4 separate regions of the Homo sapiens genome follow, and regions 1, 2 and 3 are each linked to region 4. The links come from fine-mapping of genetic effects on gene expression. A gene starts in region 4. Each other region holds a variant in brackets. All regions are shown on one strand. Distances are between the middles of the regions. Region 1 overlaps LOC105369329 (a long non-coding RNA gene). Region 2 has its middle 8.6 kb from the start of SAXO4. Region 3 overlaps DDB1 (damage specific DNA binding protein 1). Region 4 holds the start of SDHAF2 (succinate dehydrogenase complex assembly factor 2).

What was found. PIP is the estimated chance that this variant, and not a neighbour inherited with it, causes the effect. A credible set is the group of variants that fine-mapping cannot tell apart.
Region 1: its variant is the best candidate, but not a certain one, in a credible set for the expression of SDHAF2 in thyroid (GTEx, PIP 0.54).
Region 2: its variant is the best candidate, but not a certain one, in a credible set for the expression of SDHAF2 in whole blood (TOPMed, PIP 0.69).
Region 3: its variant is the best candidate, but not a certain one, in a credible set for the expression of SDHAF2 in whole blood (TOPMed, PIP 0.89).

Annotation. Positions count from the first base shown.
Region 1 is chr11:61,498,066-61,504,430 of GRCh38, reverse strand. It overlaps LOC105369329 (a long non-coding RNA gene), which reads right to left. Exons shown (of 3, transcript NR_188527.1): 2 at 4,596-4,668. Among named protein-coding and RNA genes, the nearest start is that of MIR4488, 7.3 kb to the left of the region's middle. RefSeq lists a silencer at 5,068-5,268. The variant C/T (reference allele first, on the strand shown) is at 2,951.
Region 2 is chr11:61,469,376-61,475,740 of GRCh38, reverse strand. No RefSeq gene overlaps it. Among named protein-coding and RNA genes, the nearest start is that of SAXO4, 8.6 kb to the left of the region's middle. The variant C/T (reference allele first, on the strand shown) is at 2,524.
Region 3 is chr11:61,308,380-61,312,379 of GRCh38, reverse strand. DDB1 (damage specific DNA binding protein 1) reads left to right here. Exons shown (of 27, transcript NM_001923.5): 17 at 296-391; 18 at 485-596; 19 at 1,962-2,085; 20 at 2,420-2,584; 21 at 3,303-3,397. Among named protein-coding and RNA genes, the nearest start is that of VWCE, 15 kb to the right of the region's middle. The variant C/T (reference allele first, on the strand shown) is at 1,506.
Region 4 is chr11:61,426,935-61,433,299 of GRCh38, reverse strand. SDHAF2 (succinate dehydrogenase complex assembly factor 2) reads right to left here and starts at 3,176. Exons shown (of 4, transcript NM_017841.4): 1 at 3,118-3,176. The coding sequence starts at 3,153. CPSF7 (cleavage and polyadenylation specific factor 7) reads left to right here and starts at 3,325. Exons shown (of 10, transcript NM_001142565.3): 1 at 3,325-3,386; 2 at 4,010-4,118. The coding sequence starts at 4,065. RefSeq lists enhancers at 3,046-3,105, 3,462-4,110 and silencers at 3,052-3,387, 3,246-3,415, 3,526-3,955.

The sequences.
Region 1 (6,365 bases), 71 kb before region 4:
ATGGTGAAACTCTGTCTCTACTAAAAGTACAAAAATTAGCCAGGGTGGTGGTGGGTGCCTGTAATCCCAGCTACTTGGGAGGCTGAGGCAGGAGAATTGCTTGAACCCGGGAGGCAGAGGTTGCAGTGAGCTGAGATTGCCCGTTGCACTCCAGCCTGGGCAACAGATCTGGACTCTGTCTAAAAAAAAAAAACAAAAAAACATCTGAGTGGCCAAAGGAGGTCTCATTGAGACCATGGCATTGAGCAAAGATGGCAGGGTACACTCCTGGCAGTGGAGATGGCAGTGCCAAGCCCCTAGGGCAAGAGTATGCCTGGGACTTTGGGAGCAGCAAGGGGCCCAGCCCAGGGAGCAAGGGGAAGCATGGTGGTCCAGGAGATCAGAGACAGAAAGTAAGGACTGGGCAGGCCGAGGAGGGCCCCTGTCCTTCATGAGGACTTTGGCTTTGACTCTAGGTGACAGGTCATCCGGGAATTTTGCACAGAGGACACATGTTTTAACAGGATCCCTTTGGCTATGGCTGCAGGATATGGGGGGGTATGTGTGTGTGTGTGCACGCACACGTGTGTGCATGCGTGTACGTGTGTGCGTGCATGCGTGCATGCATGTGTATGTGTGTGTGTTGGGGAAAGGGTTTTGTGCAACTTTAACCTCTCTCCTCTTGGTTCTCTCCCACAGGATAATGCTAGCTGTCGTTTACTCAGCACATACAGGTTGTCAAATTTATTCTTCACAACAGCTCTGCCGAGCAGGTACTATACTCTCCACCACCCTCTGGCTCTACAGATGAAGAAACAGATTAGATTCAGAGAGGTTAAGTAGTTTGAGTTTCAGTGTGGTTAAACAGCCACTGCCAAGCTACAAGGTCACACAGCCGGTAAGGGGCGGAGCCAGGATTCAAACCCAGTCCATCTTATTGCAAAGCCCGGGCTTTGTCGACGATGTCTCATTGACTCTGTGGTCTAGGAGAAATTAGAGAAACCACCCTGGGTGCTCAAACGCTCACCTCCATCCTGCAAACAGCAAAAATATTTCTAGGGGTGCCCTGCTTGGAGGTTTTGATGTTGTCAGAGAGGACAAGAGTGGCTATGAGCCACACCACTTCCCCTTTCCCATCCCAGGCCCCAGGGCTCATATGTTTGCCTAACTAGGGGGTATCCTGAAATCCACAGGGCAAGCCTAGGAACCCCAAATCAGGTCCCACAAGACAGAACAAAGAGGTCCCCAGGTCCTGGGTCATCCTAGGCCTGTGATCTGGGCTCAGGGCTTATATGATACCAAATTCCAGGCAGTCTCTGGCCCACCGTTAGACTAGAGCCCATCAGTGATAGCCAAACTCACCAGGCTGGCTCAGCCACTGCCAACCTACTCCTCCCATCCTGCCTAAGAAACCAGAGCCCAGGCGTGGCCTGGGGATCATGTTTACCTGGAACCCTAGCTCTGTGAGTTACCTGCCTGATCTGTTGAAAGCTGAGAGTCCTCCCAGGTCCCCCTCAGAGACACCAGAGCTGGAGCAACAGAGGCCACAGGAGTGTGAGGAGGGGGAGAAGCTGACTGGTTCCCAAGGCCACATTCCAGAATGTTGTGGATGGAACTCTGACCACCCCAGTGGGTTCTGTTAGGCCATCAAGCTACAAAGTGGACTTGATGACTCCTTCCTCCTGGGAGGAATGCTGGGGTCATGGCTGGCAGTCGCTCTTTATGTTAATACCTTCTTGGATCTGTGGCCAAATGCAAATCAGATCATCTGCTCCAAGAATACAGATCCAGGTCCCAACCAAGACTACCAAGGACTTGTCTGGCCTGGTCCCCCTGGGGCAGAGGCTACTGAGAGTGACCAACTTCTGTTTTTTCCCCCTCTTCTTCCTGAGCCCTCAGTAAAACTACTTTTCCTAGCTGAGAGGGTAAGACCCTGGGATGACTGCTGGGCTAATGGATGTGGGCAGAAGTGAAACATACCACATGAATGCACAATCCTCCATGCTCCATTTATCTACTGTGATGTTAAAGATGGAAAGGATCCTGGATCCCAGAGTCACCACTTGGAGATGAGCTAACCTGAAGAGCTTCTTTTCACCCCAGGACCTTTGGACATGCCAGTCCCTCTGCTTGGAATTCTCTTCTTCCCACTCTGCTTGGTTCACACTACTCATCCTTAAGGTCTCAGCTGAAACCTCCTGATATGGTTTGGATGTTTGTCCCCTTCAAATCTCATGTTGAAATGTAATCCCTGGCTGGGCGCGGTGGTTCACGTCTGTAATTCCAGCACTATGGGATGCCAAGGCAGGCGGATCACCTGAAGTCAGGAGTTCGAGACCAGCCTGGCCAACATGGTGAAACCCCGTCTCTACTAAAAACACAAAAATTAGCCAGGCGTGATGGTGCCCACTTGTAATCCCAGCTACTCGGGAGGCTGAGGCAGGAGAATTGCTTGAACCCGGGAGGTGGAGGTTGCAGTGAGCCAAGATCACCCCATTGCACTCCATCCAGCCTGGGCAACAAGAGCAAAACTCCATCTCAAAAAAAAAGAAAAAGAAATGTAACGGCCAATGTGGGTCATGGAGCCTAGTGGAGGTATTGGGGTCATGGAGGCAGATCCCTCATGAATGGCTTAGCACTGTCCCCTTGGTGATGAGTGAATTCTTGCTCAGTTCACTCAAGATCTGGTTGTTAAGGAGTCTGGGACCTTCCCTCCTATCTCTTGCTCCCTCTCTCACCAAGTGATAACGCTACTCCCTTTTACCTTCTGCCATGACTGTAAACTCCCTGAAGCCCTCACCAGATGCAGATATGGCACCATGCTTCCAGTGCAGCCTATAGAACCATGAGTCAAAATAAACAGCTTTTCTTTTCTTTTTCTTTTTTCTTTTTTTTTTTTTTTTTTGAGAAAGTTTCTCTCCTGTTGCCCAGGCTAGAGTACAATGGAGCAGTCTAGGCTCACTGCAACCTC[C/T]GCCTCCTAGGTTCAAGCAATTCTCCTGCCTCAGCCGCCTGAGTAGCTGGGACTGCAGGTGTGTGCCACCATGCCCAGCTAATTTTTGCATTTTTAGTAGAGATGGGGTTTCACCATGTTGACCAGGCTGGTCTCAAACTCCTGACCTCAGGTGATCCACCCTTCTCGGCCTTCCAGAGTGCTGGGATTACAGGAGTGAGCCAATATGCCCATCTTGTCTTTTCTTTATAAACCACCCAGCCTCAGGTATTTCTTTATAGCAACGCAAGAACAGACTAACACACTTCCCTTCCAGGATCTTTCAGAGCACGTCAAGCCCCTGTTATAGATTCTTGAGCTCCCACATTTCTCCTTCAAAGTAATTATTCCAATCACACTAAATAAATAATAACTGTGAATTATTTGCTTGAAGTCTGTTTCCGATGGACTAGGATGTGAGCTCCATGAAGACCAGATCAGAGGGCCAGGCGCGGTGGCTCACGCCTGTAATCCCAGCACTTTGGGAGGCCAAGGCGGGTGGATCATAAGGTCAGGAGTTCGAAACCAGCCTGGCCAACATGGTGAAACCCCGTCTCTACTAAAAATACAAAAATTAGTCAGCCTTGGTGGTGTGCACCTGTAATCCCAGCTACTCGGGAGGCTGAGGCAGGAGAATCGCTTGAACCCAGGAGGTGGAGGTTGCAGTGAGCTGAGATTGTGCCATTGCACTCCAGCCTGGGTGACAGAGTGAGACTCTGTCTCAAAAAAAAAGGAAAAAAAAAACAGATCAGTGCCAAGTGCCAGTGCTGTGTGGAGCCATTATTGGAACCTTCGAGCAAAGGAAAAATCAGTAACACGAATCTCATCTTCGTTTAAAATTTTGATTTTTTTTCATCATGGATTTTTGGCAATAATTTTTACTTTTACAATGATTGCATCAAACTATTACTTAATTATGGAGGTGGGTTTTTTTGGCACTTCTTTAAATATGGTGTCTAGAGCAAGTGCCTTGCCCCCCCTCACCCTAGTCTCAGCTCTGGATCGGGCAAAATCACCCTTTCTCAAAGGATTATCACAAAGCGTCAGTGACAGTGTATGGGAGCTGAATGCTGTCATTTTGAGATACTAACTTATTCCACTGTAGACAATTTCCTTATATCCATTGACTTGCATTCATATGCTAAGTTGGTTTCCTATATTCCCTGCTCTCCAGGGAAACTCAGAACAAAGAGTCAAATCCTTGGCTTTGAGTTGCAAAAGAGGCTTTGAAACCCAGAGCTGAGACTATACCCTTACAACAACCAGTTTTGAAAGAGAAATCTTTTGTGTAGGTCCAAAAAAGCTTGGCTTTGAACTTCGAGAGCAGAGAGCTGATGCCATAAGCCCTGGAGAGGGGAAGGATGCGTCATCGCAGAAGATAGCACCCAAAAGGAGATTAAGGTTCAACCGGCAGGTGGGAGAGAACGGGCAAGCAGCGCCCGGAAACACGGATGCCAGCCCAAAAACCAGTCGTCAGCCCCATCTGGGCAGAGCCTGGGGGTGGCATGAGAAAAAGTATATACCCCCAGGTATCCTGAGGGGGGCACCAGGGCAGGTGGGACCCACCTGCGCTTCCCTTACCAGGTGTGGCCTGAGGATGTAACAGGCCTCCCACAAGTCACTCTACCTGTATGGAGAGGCCTCAGTAGAGTAGACATAGAGGTGAACTCACAAGAGCAGGCATCCAGAAGTTTCCACACCTGCAAGACAGACATGGGTGTAGCCGAGAGATTAGGCTGGGGAAGTCCACATCTTTGCTAAATCCAGTTGTTACTGATAGACCAAGATACACTTTTTTTTTTTTTTTTTTTTTTGGTCACCCAGGCTAGAGAGCAATGGCGCAATCTCGGCTCACTGCAACCTCCACCTCCCGGCTTCAAGTATTCTCCTGCCTGGGCCTCCCAAGTAGCTAGGATTACAGGTGTGTGCCACCATGTCCGGCTAATTTTTGTATTTTTAGTAGAGACAGGGTTTTGCCATGTTGGCCAGGTTGGTCTCAAACTCCTGACCTTAGGTGATCCACCCGCCTCTGCCATCTGAAGTGCTGGGATTACAGGTGTGAGCCACCACGCCCGGCCCCAAGATACACTTTTGAGGTCTTGAGTATTGCTTATGAAGTCCATACTCACATATACCTGCTCTGTCTGGCTATACAAGTCATGCCATGTACAATGGAGCCGTATCTGATTCCTTTTGACACCAGGATCCTATACTGGAGGTAAGTATCTCGAGGAACAGCACTTTTGATCCATGTCCCATAAAGGGTCTTCGCAGGCCAACAGCAAACTCCCTAGGTGTGTAAAAGCACCGAGAGCACCCCGCTTACAGAAGGTACCCCACAAATGCCCTTCTTAGTGATGGTAACTCACGTGGGAAGGACATTTGATTTCTTTGGGCCTCCCAGCATCTGTAGCCCCTGGCTATGTTGGAGAATCCACCTGCCTTACAAAACAGAGCCCACTCTCCTCCCAAGGCAGCTGAAAACGCTGGGAGCTCACTTTCCCGGCATCCCTTGCAAGCGAGGTGGAAGCCTGTGACCCGGAAGTCGCCCCCAAGTACACCCACGTCAGATTCTGAATAGGAAATGAGAACTGCTGAGCAGAAGGGATCACTCAGATCCCTCCTGAGGGCGGTGTGAGGAGCGGCAGCAGGGGCTGTGTCCCAGGAGCAGCGGTGGGGAGGCCTGGGGTCTTTGTGGTCCCAGGGCCATGGGGCGATTTTCTTTGTGCTTCCTGGCTGGGTGGGCTCTAAGTTTTTTGGTTTTTTTTTTTCTTTTTCTTTTTTGAGATGGAGTTTTGCTCTTGTTGCCCAGGCTGGAGTGCAATGGCGCCATCTCGGCTCACCTCAACCTCCACCTCCTGGGTTCAAGCGATTCTCCTGCCTCAGCCTCCTGAGTAGCTGGGATTACAGGCGCCTGCTACCACGGACCCGGCTAATTTTTGTATTTTTAGTAGAGACGGGGTTTCTCCATGTTGGTCAGGCTGGCTCGGAGTCCTGATCTCAGGTGATCCGCCGGCCTCGGCCTTCCAAAGTGCTGGGAGTACAGGCGTGAGCCACCACGACCGGCCGGGCTCTAAGTTTTATTCTCAGGTCCACCTGAAGATTCTGTGAGTGACCAAGTCCTTTTAAGAAATTCCTTTTCTGCTTAAATTAGCCAGCTGTGGTTTTTGTTGCTTGTGATGAACTCTGACTGACAGCCTCCATCGTCAGACCTCATCAGCCTGTGACCACTCAGGGAGTCGCGTGATCATTCTCCCTCTGCCCCTGCTTGCACTGTCCTCCCAGAAGCCCCACACTGTCAAATGCTGTTCTGTGCTCAGGAGAAGCTTTGCCCATGTTCTTCAATGCCAGCCCACCGCCCCCAGTGCCAGAGCCCACCAGGAGAGCATGGCTCTGC
Region 2 (6,365 bases), 42 kb before region 4:
GTCTGAAATTGTTCGAATCAGCTAAGATGATTGAGAAATGGGAAACAGATCCCTGGGATGCAGCTAAAGGCACTGAGCCCTCCCAGCCCAGGAGGCTGGGGGTGGCAGGGAGAGGGTAATTATACTCCTACTTTTGAAATTCCCATGCTGGAGGCTGGGACAAGCCTAGAGTAATGTTTCTTGGCTTCAGGTGATCTGAGGTTACATGCCTGCCCCTTTCTGAGCCTTTTCTAGGCTTGAGTTTGAGGTCTGGCTCTGGCACAAATAGTGCTATGTGACCCTTCTTAATTAACTGCCTCCCTCTGATCCTGTTGCCTGTGAAGAGGGGGTTGAGCCAGGATAGGAGGTTTGGCTTGCTTTAGTTTGAGATGTGTTGTTTGGCCTGGAGAACTTGGAGCTCTGTCTTCATATACTGAAGTGATGGCTGGTTCCACGTCCCCTCCCCCTGGGCCCCTCACCTGCCATCTGTGACATAGCAGGACCCCAGCCTACCCCCTTCCAAGGTCCTTCCCCTCTGCCTTATTACAGCGGGGCATGGAGGGGAGTCGGCCTCATGCCAACCCACACTCAGCCTGGCCTCTAGGCCTGCTGGACCTGCACAGGGAGTTTCTCCCAAGCCAGACTCCAAGGTGCCCACAAAGGACACAAGGGCTCACTGAACCCCTCATTCTGCCCCCAGAGTACTGTTTCCCAACCCAGATTCTTCTGAGCCCACCAACAAAGCTCACCCAGGTGAGATGCCCCAAGCTCAGCTGCTCCAACTGACCCTTTCAGGGGAGCAGTTTGAAGCTGGGACGCAGCATAAAGGGGATCATGGCAGAGAAGAGCTGACTGGGAGGACATCAAGTCTGTGAGGCCCTGTCTTCCCTGCGATGGGGAAGAGCATGGAGCCCTGGATTCGTGCAACCACCTTTCTGTCTAGTCCTGGGAGTGGGGGCTGCCCTGCTTCATGGGCTCAGCTGTGTGAGCACCAAGGAGTGATGGGTGACATAATGACCGTGGGGGCGCAGGTTGGGTCCAGGGCGTGGTCTGCAGGCAGGCCTGTCATCGATTTTGCCCATTTCCAGTTTCTCTGCTCTGTGACTTGCAGTGATTAAGGCAGGAGAGCTGCCCAGGACTGGGGCCCCCCTTCCGAAAGTGCTTTGGGGGTTCTATTCACTGAGCTGTGTCATTACCAGGAACTGAAATAGCCCAAGTCTAATGGCTAAGTCCCATCTCTCTCTCTTTCGTAAAAGGAAATGATTCCCCTGATGACCGGATTGCTTTCCCTCACAGCCTCCCACAATCCTGGCCTCACTTGTGGTTCATTTCTCCCCTCAGTGGGCATTTCCTGGAAGACTCTATCCTGTGTATCTGATGGCTGTTCTGTTCCTGCCTGTTCTGTTCTTTTACTGTCTCCTCTGGGTGAACTTGTTGATCTCACACAAGGTTTAAAAATTCATGACTCGCGGGGAAGATGAAATGAGATGAGGCAGAAAATAAGAAGCCATTCCCAATCCTCAGATGGAATGAAGATATTCTTGGCAGAGATGAGCAAGGAACCAGGACAGGGGTCAAGGGGGTGGGTTTCCAATGCACAGAGATCTGGGTTCAATTCTGCAGCCCTGCCTTTATGAGGTATGTGCCCTTGGACAACTTCCTTAACTTCTCCGAGCCTGTTTCCTTGGCTGTATGATGAGGTCACAGTAGAACTTTAAGAGACTTAGGCTTGGAATACAGAAAAGACAATATTTACATGCTTAGCACACAGCCTGGCATAGAGAAAGCACTCAAGAAATGTTTATGATTATCATTGCATTTTCCTGCCTTCCTTGCAGTTAGATAAGGGCCACATGGCTGGTTCTGTGGGTGGAATTGAGCAGTGCCACTCCCAGTCTGAGTAGTTAGAGGTGGGTGTGAGTTTTCCATTCTCTGTGGGTAGAAATCACACTTGGGATGGAAGAACCAAAAGATGGAAGCAGGCTGGATCTCTGAGTCACTGCATGGAGTCAGCTGCCCTGGAGCTGCTTTTCCTGCAGCACACTGGGATGTGATAGAGAGATAAACCTTGCTGCTTTAAGCCTCTAAGGTTTGGGGTTTTGTTTGTTACTGCGGCATAAGCAAAGAAATGAAGATTTGAGAACTTCTTAGGAAATAAATTAGGATGTGATTCTGTATTAGTCAGCATTCTCTAGCAAAACAGAATGTGCACACACACACATACACGAGAGACAGAGAGAGACAGATTTATTATACAGAATTGGCTCTGCCTGGGCCAGTGATGCCTGTAATCCCAGCACTTTGGGAAGCTGAAGTGGAGGGTTGCTTGAGCTCAGGAGTTCAAGACCAGCCTGAGCAACACAGTGAAACTCCGTCTCTACAAAAAAAAAATTTTTTTTAATTAGCTGGGCATGGTAGCATGTGCCTGTAGTCCCAGCTACTTGGGAGGCTGAGGTGGGAGGATCACTCAAGCCCTGGAGGTTGAGGCTGCAGTGAGCCATAATCGTGCCATTGCAGTCCAGCCTGGGCAACAGAGTAAGACCC[C/T]ATCTCAAAAAAAAAAAAAAAAAAAGGAATTGGCCCACGTGACTATGAAGGCTGGCAAGTCCCAAGATCTTCAGGATGAGTTGGTTGGCAAGCTGACGACCCAAGAGAGCTGATGGCTTAGTTCCAGAGTAAGTCCAAAGGCTTGAGAACTGAGAGAGCTGATGTAGTTCTTGTCTCAAGGCCAGCAGGCTTGAGACTCAGGAAGAGCCAGTGTTCCCAGGCGAATCTGAAGGCAGGATAAAAGCCTGTGTCTCAGTTTGAAGGCTACCAGGCAGAAAGAATTGCCTTTCACTTGCGAGAGTGTAAGTCTTTTTGTTGTATTCAAACCTTGAGCTGATTACATGAAGCCCACCCCGGTTAGGGGGACAGACTGCTTTACTCAGTTTACCAATTTAAATGCCAATTTCATCCAAAAACATCCTCATAGAAACACCCAGAAGAATACTCGATCACATATCCAGGTACCCAGTCACCTAGACAAATTGAGACACAAATTAACTGTCACATTCAGGCATATGAAACTCACTGGAAGCAGACAGATGAGAGGCCTACTGAAATTTTGAGAAAACAGTAATGCCCAAAAAAAATGGGGCTTTTTTTGTTTGGTTTTTGTTTTTTTTTTTTTTTTTTTAGAGAAAGGGTCTTGCTCTGTCACCCAGGCTGGAGTGCAGTGGCGCAATCATAGCTCACTGTGACCTCAACCTCCTGGACTCAAGAGATTCTCCCGCCTCAGCCTCAAGTCGCTGGAACTACAGGCATGAGCCACCGCCCCTGGCCATGGGCCTGGTCTTTAAAAAGATTGTGACTATTTGAAACTTAAAACTTCCATGGGCAGGAAGTGGGCTGAGAAATCCACACAACCCTCAAGGAGGGTGGAACACACAATCCCTACTTCAGATATGATCGAGTAAAGTAAGGTAGGGGAAAAAGAGCTTTAAATGAGGGAGCCAAGCGGCCCTGAGAGCAGCGATGAAGGTAGTTCCTTCCAGAAACTTCCCTACCCCTCCACAAGGTCTGCCCAGAAGGCCTCAGCTCCCACTTCCCGGGGTATCCTTACTGTGGTTATCCTGTCCCTGCCCCTACTCCACCTTTGTGTATGGCGTGGGGGTGGGAAGGGAGAAGCAGGTAACCTGCCTTTTTTTTTTTTTTTTTGAGATAGAGTCTTGCTCTGTCACCCAGACTGGAGTGCAGTGGCATGATCTCAGCTCACTGCAACCTCTGCCTCCCAGGCTAAAATGATTCTTGTGCCTCAGCCTCGCGAGTAGCTGGGATTACAGGTATGCGCCAGCACACCTGGCTAAATTTTGTATTTTTTAGTAGAGATGGGGTTTCTCCATGTTGGCCAGGCTGGTCTCAAACTCCTGTCCTCAAGTGATCCACCTGCCTCGGCCTCCCAAAGTGCTAGGATTACAGGTGTGAGCCACTGTGCCCAGCAGGTAACTTTTAAAATTTATTTTTATTTTTTATTTATTTTTTTTTTGAGACGGAGTCTCGCTCTGTCGCCCAGGCTGGAGTGCAGTGGCACAATTTTGGCTCACTGCAACATCTGCTTCCTGCGTTCAAGCGATTCTCCTGCCTCAGCCTCCTGAGTAGCTGGGATTACAGGCACGTGCCACCACACCTGGCTAATTTTTTTTTTTGTATATTTAGTAGAGACAGGGTTTCACTGTGTTGGCCAGGCTGGTCTCGAACTCCTGACCTTAGGTGATCCACCCCCTTGGCTTCCTAAAGTGCTGGGATCACAGGCGTGAGCCACCGCACCCGGCCCCCAACAGGTAACTTTTTAAAATTCCTACATCTCTGGACCAAAAAAGGCCACCTCTAGACCTCATAAAGAGACCCTAGGGCAGCCCATGAGATCCTGGCTGGAGGCAGGAGCTGCACATCACTCTGGGTTTTCTCTCTTGGAAAGCAGTTTCATGTTGTGTGTTGTGTGTAGGAAGAAGAGCAAATCCAATGCGGTACATGGAGACCAGCAGAACAGACTGTGGTAGAGACTTCAGGCTCAGCCAGATCTGGTTCTCTTCTCCTTCCTGGGTACCAGGGAGAACCACACCTCCCAGGCTCCTTGCAGTTCCACAGGAACATGTGACTAGCTCCGGCCCAAGGGCTCGGAGAAGTGTCACGTGTTGCTTCCAGGTTGCAAGTGAATGTGAGTTATCCGCACTTTCTCATTCCCTTTAGTAGCAACCGTGGAGACCACATGTTGAGATGGCAGAGCGTGGATCCCTGGGCTGCCACAGAAAGGAGCTGTCCTGAACAGCTGCCCAGTTCACATTGGACTTGGCACAAATGAGAAATAAGGGTTGCGTTGTTAAGTCGCTGAGATTTGGGGGTTTATTTATTATCATAGTCTAGCCTAACGTGACTAGTACACCTTTCAATTAGATAGTGGCTAACTATATCATGCATAGGAGGGAAAGGAAACATCTAGAAAGTATGGTAAGTTTGTGGTTTTAAGAGAATCCTGTGGCTGGGTGCAGTGGCTCAGGCCTATAATCCCGGCAATTTGGGAGGCTGAGGTGGGAGAATTGCTTGAGGCCAGGAGTTTGAGACCACCCTGGCCAACATAGCAAGACCCTGTCTCAAATTTAAAATTTAAAAAAGTTAATTAAAAAAACAAAAAAAAAAAGCCCGGGCACAGTGGCTCATGCCTGTAATCCCAGCACTTTGGGAGGCCAAGGCAGGTGGATCACAAGGTCAGGAGTTCAAGACCATCCTGGCCAACATGGTGAAACCCCGTCTCTACTAAAAATACAAAAATTAGCCAGGCACGGTGGCAGGCGCCTGTAATCCCAGCTACTCGGGAGGTTGAGGCAGGACAATCGCTTGAACCCGGGGGGCAGAGGTTGCAGTAAGCCGAGATCGTGCCACTGCACTCCAGCCTGGGCGACAGAGTGAGACTCCGCCTCAATAAATAAATTAACCAATTAAAAAAAAAAAAGGCCAGGTACAGTGGCTCACGCCTGTAATCCCAGCACTTCAGAAGACCGAAGTGGGTGGATTGCTTGAGTCCATGTTTGAGACCAGCCTGGGCAACATGGTGAACAAAAAATTAGCTGGGCGTGGTGGCACATGCCTGTGGTTCCAGCTACTTGGGAGGCTGAGGTGGGAGAATCGCCTGAGCCTGGAAGGTTGAGGCTACAGTGAACCAAGATCTCGCCACTGCACTCCAGCCTGGGCAACAGAGTGAGACCCTGTCTCAAAAAAAAAAAAAAAAAAAAGAGAATCTCATAAAACACTCAAAACATTTTCCACTAACTTGTTGAGTCTCATTAACAACTTCCATTTGCAACAGATATCAATGGTCTTGGATCCAGCACAGGCAGCTTCATAAAGAGTCTCTACCTTCATTTATTTCATCAGTCAATTAGTCATTCAATGAACATTTAATGAGCACCAACTATGTGCCAGGCACTGTGCTAAAACACAGAACAGAATGGAACGTAATGTATGTATGGTCCTTATCCCCCATGGAACTAGTAGTAGAGAGAGTTACACATAATCTCTCTGGGCTGGGCTTGGTGGCTGGCACCTATAATCCCAGCACTTTGGGAGGCTGAGGCAGGCGGATTGCCTGAACTCAGGAATTCAAGACCAGCCGGGGCAACATGGAGAAAGCCGATCTCTACCAAAAAAAAAAAATAGCCAGGTGTGGTGGTGTGCGCCTATGGTCCCAGCTACTTGGGAGGCTGAGGTGGTAGGATTGCTTGAGCCTGGGAGATAGAGGTTGCAGTGAGCTGAGACTGTAGCACTACACACCAACCTAGGTGACAGAGTGAGACCCCATCTCAAAAAAAAATTTTTTTTTAATAAATAAATAATCTCTCTGTGCTAACCTA
Region 3 (4,000 bases), 120 kb after region 4:
ACAGGCAGTAGTTTGAAAGTCACATTCCTGGAGCGTTGATTTTTTTAACTGGTTGCACATTATCATTAAATGGAAAGCTGTTAAAAATCTCAGCCTAGGCTCACCCAGACCAATGAAATAAGAGTATCTTGTGGATGGGACCAGGAATCAGAATTGTCTGTCTCTCCAGGTGATGTTTAGCATGGAGTCAAAGCTGGTGTAATCCTGCCTTGTTTTTCTTCCTCTGTGGAGTTGCCTCATAGAATCTTTGCCTTCCTTGAGTCTCCTCAGTCTAAACCCAGACCCTTCTTTCCAGCCTGGCGCTGGCCAACAATAGCACCCTCACCATTGGCACCATCGATGAGATCCAGAAGCTGCACATTCGCACAGTTCCCCTCTATGAGTCTCCAAGGTGAGGCCCAGGGTGGGAGAGTGGGAAGTGGGGGTTGGTGTAGGGTGCTTCTGACTTTCTAAGTGACACTGTTGTTCTGTACTTGTTCTGCAGGAAGATCTGCTACCAGGAAGTGTCCCAGTGTTTCGGGGTCCTCTCCAGCCGCATTGAAGTCCAAGACACGAGTGGGGGCACGACAGCCTTGAGGCCCAGCGCTAGCACCCAGGTAAGGGCAGTGGACAAAGAAAGATGACCTTAGAGCAGGGGCCAGCAAGCTTTCTGTACAGGCCAGGTAGTGAAGGCTTTCGGCTTTGCAGGCAGTGTGGTCTCAGTTACCACTGACTGTTCAACTTTGCCATCGTAGCCTGAAAGCAGCTGTAGGCAACAGGTGAGCATAGCTGGCTTCTATAAAAGTTTATTTTTAAAAAACAGTTCCTACTTGGTGGCCTTGCAGCATCTGTCACCATCAGTTTGGGTCCTTTGTAGAGTGGTCGAATAGAGGAGGAACATGGGGTTTGGAGTCCGACAGAACGGGCTTCCAGGTTTGTTTGTTTGTTTTTTTTTTAAGACAGAAACCAGCTTTTCAAAAGTGCCTACTGGGTTTATGTTATGTTATGTTATGTTATGTTTTATGTTATGTTTTATGTTATGTTATGTGTTATGTTTGTTATGTTATGTTATGTTATGTGTTATGTTATGTTATGTTATGTTATGTTATGTTATGTTATGTTATGTTATGTTATGTTATGTTTGTTATTGAGACGGAGTCTCACCCTGTCGTCCAGGCTGGAGTGCAGTGGCACGATCTCGGCTCACTGCAACCTCTACCTCCCAGGTTCAAGCGATTCTCCTGGCCCAGCCTCCTGAGTAGTTGGGATTACAGGCGCGTGCCACCATGCCCAGCTAATTTTTGTATTTTTAGTACAGATGGGGTTTCACTGTGTTGGCCAGCCTGGTCTCGAACTCTTGCCCTTGTGATCTGCCTGCCTCGGCCTCCCGAAGTGCTGGAATTACAAGCGTGAGCCACTGTGCCTGGCCTGGCTTCCAGGTTTATTGCTAGCTGTGTGACCTTGGGAAAGCCTAAACTTCAGTTTTCTTATCTGCAGAATGAGGCAGATAACAGTCTGGAGCTACA[C/T]ATACTAGGCTCAGTGGTGATACCAGCTGGTCATTTTCTTCCATGTATTCTCTGCCTTTCATGTTTCCACATATCTGCGATAGGACCTCCCTCCGTAGTCCAGAGTTGAAGTCTTCATGGCTTCTGTTTTTATTTGAAGTGCCCCCCTCCTCTTCCCATTGAGGGTAGTGGAGTCTGTCCCCATTAGGTCACCTGAGTTCCTTTTTAGCTGTGCTTGATTGACTTGAAGCATCACTGTTTTGTCTTTAATGACCCTTAGATTTTTACTGTTTGGGATTGATGTTTCAACTACATGCCTCCTCTGAAACACTCTCCTCAGGCTCCTTGAGCTGCCAGCCATCAGAGTTCTTGGCTAGCTGCAGCCTTTGTGTCCTGATCTGACGGGTCCCTTCACAATGATGTCTCAGCACTTCTTCTGTGTTTGAGAAGGATGATGTGCATTCTCTCTGTTTGCAGGCTCTGTCCAGCAGTGTAAGCTCCAGCAAGCTGTTCTCCAGCAGCACTGCTCCTCATGAGACCTCCTTTGGAGAAGAGGTGGAGGTGCACAACCTACTTATCATTGACCAACACACCTTTGAAGGTGCACATGAGCTCTTTCGATAATTTTTATCTACGCCCTCCCTAATCCAGGCTGTTCTGGGCTCTGGTACCTGCAAAGCCTGACAGATGTGGCAGACTGTCCTAGGAGGAGCAGAAAGGAGGGGTGGGAATTCTGTGAGATGGCAGTGAGTTTGGAGGGCTGGGCATCCTCTCCTTAGCTTAGGCTGGTGGGGGATGGATAATCTGATGAGACAGGGACAGCAGGTGGTACACGCTTTGTCACTGCCTAAGCCACAGGCCTCAGAAATACGGGGTTATGTGTGCGTGCAGATATGGGTAACCTGTCATCACGTAGTCATCTCTCTACTCTCTAGTGCTTCATGCCCACCAGTTTCTGCAGAATGAATATGCCCTCAGTCTGGTTTCCTGCAAGCTGGGCAAAGACCCCAACACTTACTTCATTGTGGGCACAGCAATGGTGTATCCTGAAGAGGCAGAGCCCAAGCAGGGTCGCATTGTGGTCTTTCAGTATTCGGATGGTAAGTGGGCGCAGTCTCCAGTTTCTGAGGGATGTGAAATGCTGAGAAAGTCAGCAGGCCATTGTGAGGTTTCAGAGAGCCTCAGTTAAGCAGTAGAAGAAGTTGGGTTCATTGCTGTAAAGAGCTATTCTCTTCTTTATTTGATTGAATTTTGGAGCATGTGAACAGTACACAGTAAAATTTAGCTTACATTTCTTTCTTTGCTACTCTTTGAAAGGCCAAAAGAACAAAAGGGAGGGGTGGGAGAAGTGAACGATGGGTAAGGGAATCTAGTGACAACAGGTATAAAAATTCAGAATCTTAGGTTTGTTTTCCACTTGGTTGCTCAGGCATTTAGGTGCTCTTTCCAGCTTCAACTCTGTGTTTATATTTTAATATCTTTTCTCGTTACACCCACCCAAGATGGCTCTAAAGACTATCAGCCCGGAAATCTCAGATCAGATAGCTGAAATGGGATCTGGTTTCCATCTTGAGAGAGAGATCTAGAGTTTCAGGGCGAGGGGGCAGATCCTAGATACCAACTGGATTTCTCTGCACATTATCTTGGGGCTCATACTTCACGTGGTCATTAACTCCAGTAGATACTGAGTCTGTGTTGTTTTTTTAGATGAGTGGTTTTGGGGGGCAAGAATTTGTACCACAGGGGCAACCAGAGGATTCTTTTGATGAGGTAAAGTGTGGGCTCATAGAGACTCAAACATATTTTTTCCACCCCCAGGAAAACTACAGACTGTGGCTGAAAAGGAAGTGAAAGGGGCCGTGTACTCTATGGTGGAATTTAACGGGAAGCTGTTAGCCAGCATCAATAGCACGGTGAGGCCTGGACCACTTGGTACTTACTTTAGGCTGCCCATCATTGTCTGCAGAATGTGTCTCTCTTAGGTTGTCTGGGGCCACGTGTGTGTCAGATCTGAAGGAGAACAAAGTAGCGGGTGTGGAGGATAGAGCTCTGAGTTGAGAATCTCGGAAACTGAGGTTGAACCACGCATTAGACTAGGTTACGTGAACCCCCATGTGTTTCAGATCCTGAGTGCTGTGGGACTTGAGAAACGAGTGAGACCTATGGTCCCTGCACGTAGGATGTTCCATGCCAAAAGAAAATGAGCCAAATCAGAATATCCTGAGTGCATTCCTGAAAGCTAGTCCTTTGAAATATTCCACTGCTTATGCCATGACCCTACCTCCTCCCTTGCTAAAAAGTTTTTTTCCATCTTTATTGAGGTATAGTTGACAAAAATTTTGTATATCGAAAATGGACAACTTGATGTTTTGGAGTAGGGAGATAGCAGCAAACAAAATGGACAATGAGCTGCCCTTTTGGAGTTTATGAGCAAATAAAGTACATAGTACGTGAAATGGTGAGAAGTAAAAGGGGTGCAGGACTGGAGGAATGCCAGGATGAATGTGGGAAGTGGG
Region 4 (6,365 bases):
TTGGGAGGCTGAGGTGCGCGGATCACGAGGTCAGGAGATGGAGACCATCCTGGCTAACACAGTGAAACCCCATCTCTACTAAAAATACAAAACATTAGCCAGGCATGGTGGCGGGCGCCTGTAGTCTCAGCTACCCGGGAGGCTGAGGCAGGATAATCGCTTGAACCCAGGAGATGGAGGTTGCAGTGAGCCAAGATCGCGCCACTGCACTCCAGCCTGGCAACAGAGCGAGACTCCGTCTCAAAAAAAAAAAAAAATTAAATTAAAAAAATATATAGAGAGAGACAAGTACAGAATACTATAATACTGTAACTGTGGTATGTAAGTCACTTTTAATTTTGGTATAGAAATTAAAGACAAAGGTATAAAAACAACTATAAAAATTTGTTAATGGAGACAATATAAAAAGATGTAATTTGTGACATCCACAACATACAAGGGGGTCATAAAAGAGCAGAGTTTTTGTATGCAATGGAAATTAAGTTATCAAAACAGATTGTTATGTTTTATATAAGCCACATGGTAACCACAAAGAAATACCTGTGTAAGACACACAAGGAAATGAGAAATTCGTTTCTCAAAGTATGTCACTACAAAAAAAAAAAAGTCAACGAAATATAAAGGATGACAAGAGTGGAAAAGAGGAGCAAAAAGGTTGTAAGACAGAGAACAGTTTACAAAACGGCAACAGCAAGCACAGTTGGCCCTCCGTATCTGTGGGTTCCACACCTGTAAATTCAACCAACTGCACACTCAACCAACTGTGGATCAAAAATATTCAAAAGAAATAAATAATACAACAATTAAAAAACAACTAAGATATAGTATAACAAGCATATACATAGCCTTGACATTGTTTTCGGTATTATAAGTAATCTAGAAATAATTTAAAGGATATGGAAGTATGTGTGTAGATTATATGCAAATACTATGCCATTTTATATAAGAGACTGAGCTTCTGCAGAGTTTGATATCCACAGCGGATCCTACAACAGTCATCCCATGGATACAAAGGGATGATTGTACTTCCCTATTTTATTTATTTTTTGAGACAAGGTCTCACTTCCAATGCCCAGGCTGGAGTGCTGTTGCAAAATCAAGGCTCACCGCAGCCTTGACTTCTCAGACGCACTCCCGCCTCAGCCTCTCAAGTAGCTGGGACTACAGGTGTGTACTACCACACCTGACTAATTTTTTTTAGTAGAAAAGGGGTTTTGCCATGTTGCCCAGGCTGGTCTCGAACTCCAGGACTCACACGATCCACCCACCTCGGCCACTATTTACTTTAGGTATAAATGGATTAAACTCCAGGCCTGGCGCGGTGGCTCACGCCTGTAATCCCAGCACTTTGGGAGGCTGAGGCGGGCAGATCACGAGGTCAGGAGATCGAGACCATCCTGGCTAACACGGTGAAATCTCGTCTCTACTAAAAATACAAAAAATTAGCCAGGCGTGGTGGGGGGCGCCTGTAGTCCCAGCTACTCCTAAACCAGGAGATTGGCGTGAACCCAGGAGGTGGAGCTTGCAGTGAGTCGAGATCATGCCACTGCACTCCAACCTGGGCGACAGAGCGAGACTCTGTCTCAAGAAAATAACATAACATAACATAACCTCCCCAACCAAAAGACATGAAGTGGCTGAATATAATGAATTAAAAAAAAGATTCAACTATATGCCGCACAAGAGACATTTTATTAAAATCTGGAAATCAATGGCAAAAGAAAAGGTGGAAAATTCACAAATATGTGGAAATTAAACAACACACTCTTGAACAATCAATGAGTCAAAGAAGACATCAAAAGGAAAATTAGAAAATATCTTGAGACACGCCGGGAATGGTGGATCACACCAGTAATCCCAGCACTTTTTGGAAAGCTGAGGCAGGAGGATCACTTGAGGCCAGGAGTTTGAGACCAGCCTGGGCAACATAGTGAGAACCTGTCTCTACGAAAAAAAGAAAAAAGAAGGGAAACAACAGGCCGGGCGCGGTGGCTCACGCCTGTAATCTCAGCACTTTGGGAGGCCGAGAAGGACGGATCACCTTAAGTCTGGAGTTCGAGACCTGCCTGGCCAACAAGGTGAAACCCCATCTCTACAAAAATACAAAAATTAGCCAGGCATGATGGCGATGCCTGTAATCCCAGCTACCTGGGAGGCTGAGGCGGAAGAATCGCTTGAACCCGGTAGGTGGAGGTTGCAGTGAGCCAAGTTCGTGCCATTGCACTCCAGCCTGGGCGACAAGAGCAAAACTCCGTCTCAAAAAAAAAAAAGGAAAACAACAAAAAACAAACAAAAAGGAAATATCCTGAGACAAACTAAAACCCAACATATACAAAATTATGAGATGCGACAAAAGCTGTACTAAGAAGGAAGTTTATAGTGTAAACGCCTACATCAAAAAAGAATAAAGATCGAGTCCCTGGGTCTGCAGGAAAAAAAAAAAAGAATAAAGATAGGGATGGGGGTAGGAGGGGAAGATAGAGGCAAAGTTAGTTACTTTATAACAGCAGGCTAGGAAAAAAGAATAATAAGTTCCAGTGTTCTATTACATATTAGAGTGACTACAGCTAATAACACTGTACTGTATATGTCAAGATGCTAGAAAAAGATCTTGAAAAGTTATTACCGTAAATAAATGATAAAGATTTGAGGTGATGGACATGCTAACTACGCTGATTTGATTATTCGATGTACACATGTATTAAAACATTATACTGTACCCCCATAAACACGTACAATTATATGTCAATTATAAACAAACAAAAAGCTGAAGATACTATGTGAAACCACGAAAAGCATTAAAGACTAAAGAACGGGGAGAAGGGGAGCCCAGGGAAGTTGGGCTAATCCCGCCTGGGACGTAGGTGAGAGGCGAATTGGGTCTTGGACGATGACTGATCGTTTAAGCAGATATTTCCAGACCGGCACACAGTAGGCTCACCAAAGAATGGAAGCGACCTTTATTTCCTGAGTTGCAGGATCGGCCTCTCCCTGGGCCTGCCCTTGCCCTGCGCTATCGGGCAGACGAACTCTCCCCAAGATAGAGACCACAGAGGAAGACAAAGGGTAATCCCCGCTGCCGCCCGCCCCGGACGCTAGAACGTTCTCTCTCCTCACCAGCGACGAAGTCGAGAACACTGTAGACACCGCCATTTTCCCCACCTGCACCGGAAACCGGCTGCGCGGGCACTTCCGGGAACTCCTAGCCGCCCGGCCAGCCGACCACGGCAGCCACGGAGGAGCTGAGCCGGAAGGTGCGTCCCTGCGCATGCCGGAAGTGGCGGTGCGTGTGACGCCGGCGGCGGGGGGGGCGGGACCTGGGGCGGAGAGCGGTTCGCGCGCTTCGGGCCTAGTCCGGACTCGCCGCCGCCGCCGCCATATTCCCGGTAACGGGGGCGCGCGGTCGGGGGCAGGTTGGGCCGGAAGAGGGGTCCGGGCCGGCACTGAGGCGGGAAGGGGGTCGGTTGAGATGGGACGGCCGGAGTCTGCGGGCGGAGGGAGTCGCGGGCCTTTTGAGGGAGGAGGCAGAGCGCGCCGGGCCGGGTTTGTCGGGAGGGAGCGGGGCGGGCCTAGCTGGGGGCGAAGAGTAGGCCTGGGTTGGGGGCAGAGGCGGCTGGAGCTGCTTGACACCTGGGGGCTCTGGCCGGAGCCGCCTTGGGGGCTAGGCAGGTGCAGCGGATAGGGGCTGCGGGCTTCGCCGCGGTCATTCTTCGCAACGCCGTCCTAGGGCCACTAGGACCCGAGGGTGGGACTTTTCCGTCGCGCCATAGGCAGCTGCGGCGCAGACGCGGCGCTACCCGGGTCGGGCCCGAGGGTGATGGGCAGCGACCCCCGGCGGCCTGGGAGAGCGGTGGGCGGCGCGAGGCCGGGGGCGGGGCGGAGCGGGTGGGGCCGAGCTGGGGCCGCCAGGATGCTGCGTCTCTGGAGATGGGAGGTTAGCAATCATTACCCTCTTCCCAGCCCAGGACCCTCGTGCCTTCTAATTCTTGCATTTTTCCGAATCCCGCAGTGGCATCTTCCTTACTTTGTCCATCCTCCGGACTCGCGATCTTCCTTCCGGAGCCATGTCAGAAGGAGTGGACTTGATTGATATATATGCTGACGAGGAGTTCAACCAGGTGAGGTGTCATCAGGAGCTTTGGGATTTTCCTTGATCATCTGAGGAATCATTTTCAGCAAACTGGCAGTGGTTTCAAGCTGTACCAGTCCTAGGCTTGAACACGCGTCTATCCGGTCTAAAATTTTTCTCCTGCAGAAACTTTAAAGACTACACTCCATTCCTCTTTATGTTAATTTGAAGCTCCAGGCTTAATTTTAAAGGCTTTGATTTAAGAGCAAATAAAAAGCAGGTGTAATAGAATGGTGAATCAACCTGTGGAATTTACTCCCCAGGAAGCCAAAGGTGGGTGTCAGACTAACCACACTTAAAAATCAAAAGTACATTTGCTACGGTATTCATGAGGACAGTGTTGATACCGGTTCCTTTACATTCTCAACCTGCAGCTGGAGAAGTGTAGTCCCCTCCATCGTGACAGTGCAAAAGCAAAGTAGAAAAGATGACTTTAACATTTAGTTTCAACTCCATTCCAATTAAGTTTTACTTCCTTTTATAAGTAGGTTGACTCCAGTCATGAGAAGTCCACAGGCATTTTGGTATAATAAATTGTATTGGTTACCTTTAGTCTTTCTAGAGGGAATAAAAGAGTAAAGACGTTAGACAAACCAGTTAGAAAACTGATAATAGACCCATGCACATACCCTCAGTTGGATTTGTTTTTATTGTACCAGGGAACATTATACAGAAATTTATCTAGAGCTGGGCAAGGTGGCTCTTGACTGTAATCTCAGCTGCTCTGGAGCCTGAGATGGGAAGATTACTTAAGACCAGAAGTTCAATACCAGCCAGGGCAACATACCAAGACCCAGTCTACAAAAATGTAAAAAAAAACAACAACGAGATATGGTGGCTTGTGCCTGTAGTCCCATCTACTCTGGAGAGTGAGGCAAGAGGTACTCCCTGAGCCCAGGAATTCAAGGCTGCAGTGAGCCATGATTGGGCCGCTGCACTCTATCCTGGGCAACAGAACAAGACCCTGACTCTTAAAAACACAAGAAAAATTCTCTCAAAGAAATAATCTTCCATGCAGTTAAGTTTTTCAGTCTTGAGGTCAATTCTCAAGAATGTTCCAAAATTTCTATTGAAAACGTACTAATATCTTGCCTGGGTTATTTTCAGCACCATTCTATGTAAGTAAGCTGGCTCTTCCCATTTGCATCTTCCAGTGGGTACACATAAGGACCTGGTAAGAGCATGTATTGAATGGGTTAGAAAGGGAAAGTTCCCTGGTTTGACCCTGACTTTGATATGAGGCAACAGAAGAGGCGGATACATGCCATTTATTTTTCACTTGGCATAAGTTTACATGAAAATCTATTTTTTGATGTATTATGGTTTTATAACATGGAAATTATAAACCATACACAAAAGCAGAATAATGTAATGACCTTGTACCCATTATACAGCTTCACCAATTATACTTTTTAATGGCAGGTTTCTTGTCTCTGTTGTGGTTAACTGTGGTCCTTTAAATATAGCTGCTGATTATCTTAAATAGATGAATTTTCCTTTTTTTTTTTTTTTTTTCTTGAGACAGAGTCTCTCTCTGTCACCCAGGCTGGAGTGCAGTGGCGCGATCTCGGCTCACTGCAACCTCTGCCTCCCAGGTTAAAGTGATTCTCCTGCCTCAGCCTCCTGAGTAGCTGGGACTACAGGCGTGGGTCACCTCACCTGGCTAATTTTTGTAATTTTAGTAGAGACGGGGTTTCACCATGTTGGCCAGGTTGGTCTCGAATGCCTGACCTTGTGATCCGCCCGCCTTAGCCTCCCAAAGTTGGGATTACAGGCGTGAGCCACCGTGCATGGCGAAAAAATTTTTTAGTTTTAAATAAGTCCAATAATTATGGATAAAAGAGAAAAGTTCTAGATGTTAATTTAGTTACAAAATCATTGTTTTCCTGAGTTTTCCATATTCATTTGAATCAGACTTTTAATACCTTAAAAAAAAAAACACACAGTCTTGCTGTGTTGCCTAGGCTGGTCTCTCAACTCCTGAGCTCAAGCGATTCTCCCACTTCAGCCTCCCAAACTGTTGGGATTATAGGTGTGAGCCACTCTGCCCAGTTCAGACTTTTTGCAGATTATGTTTTTCCCCCACCAAGATAACAAGAGCGGTCCTTAGTTCTTCTCTTTTTTTTTTTTTTTTTTTTTTTTTTGAGACAGAGTCTCTCTTTGTCGCCAGGCTGGAGAGCAGTGGCACCATCTTGGCTCGCTGCAACCTCCTTTTCCCAGGTTCAAATGATTCTCC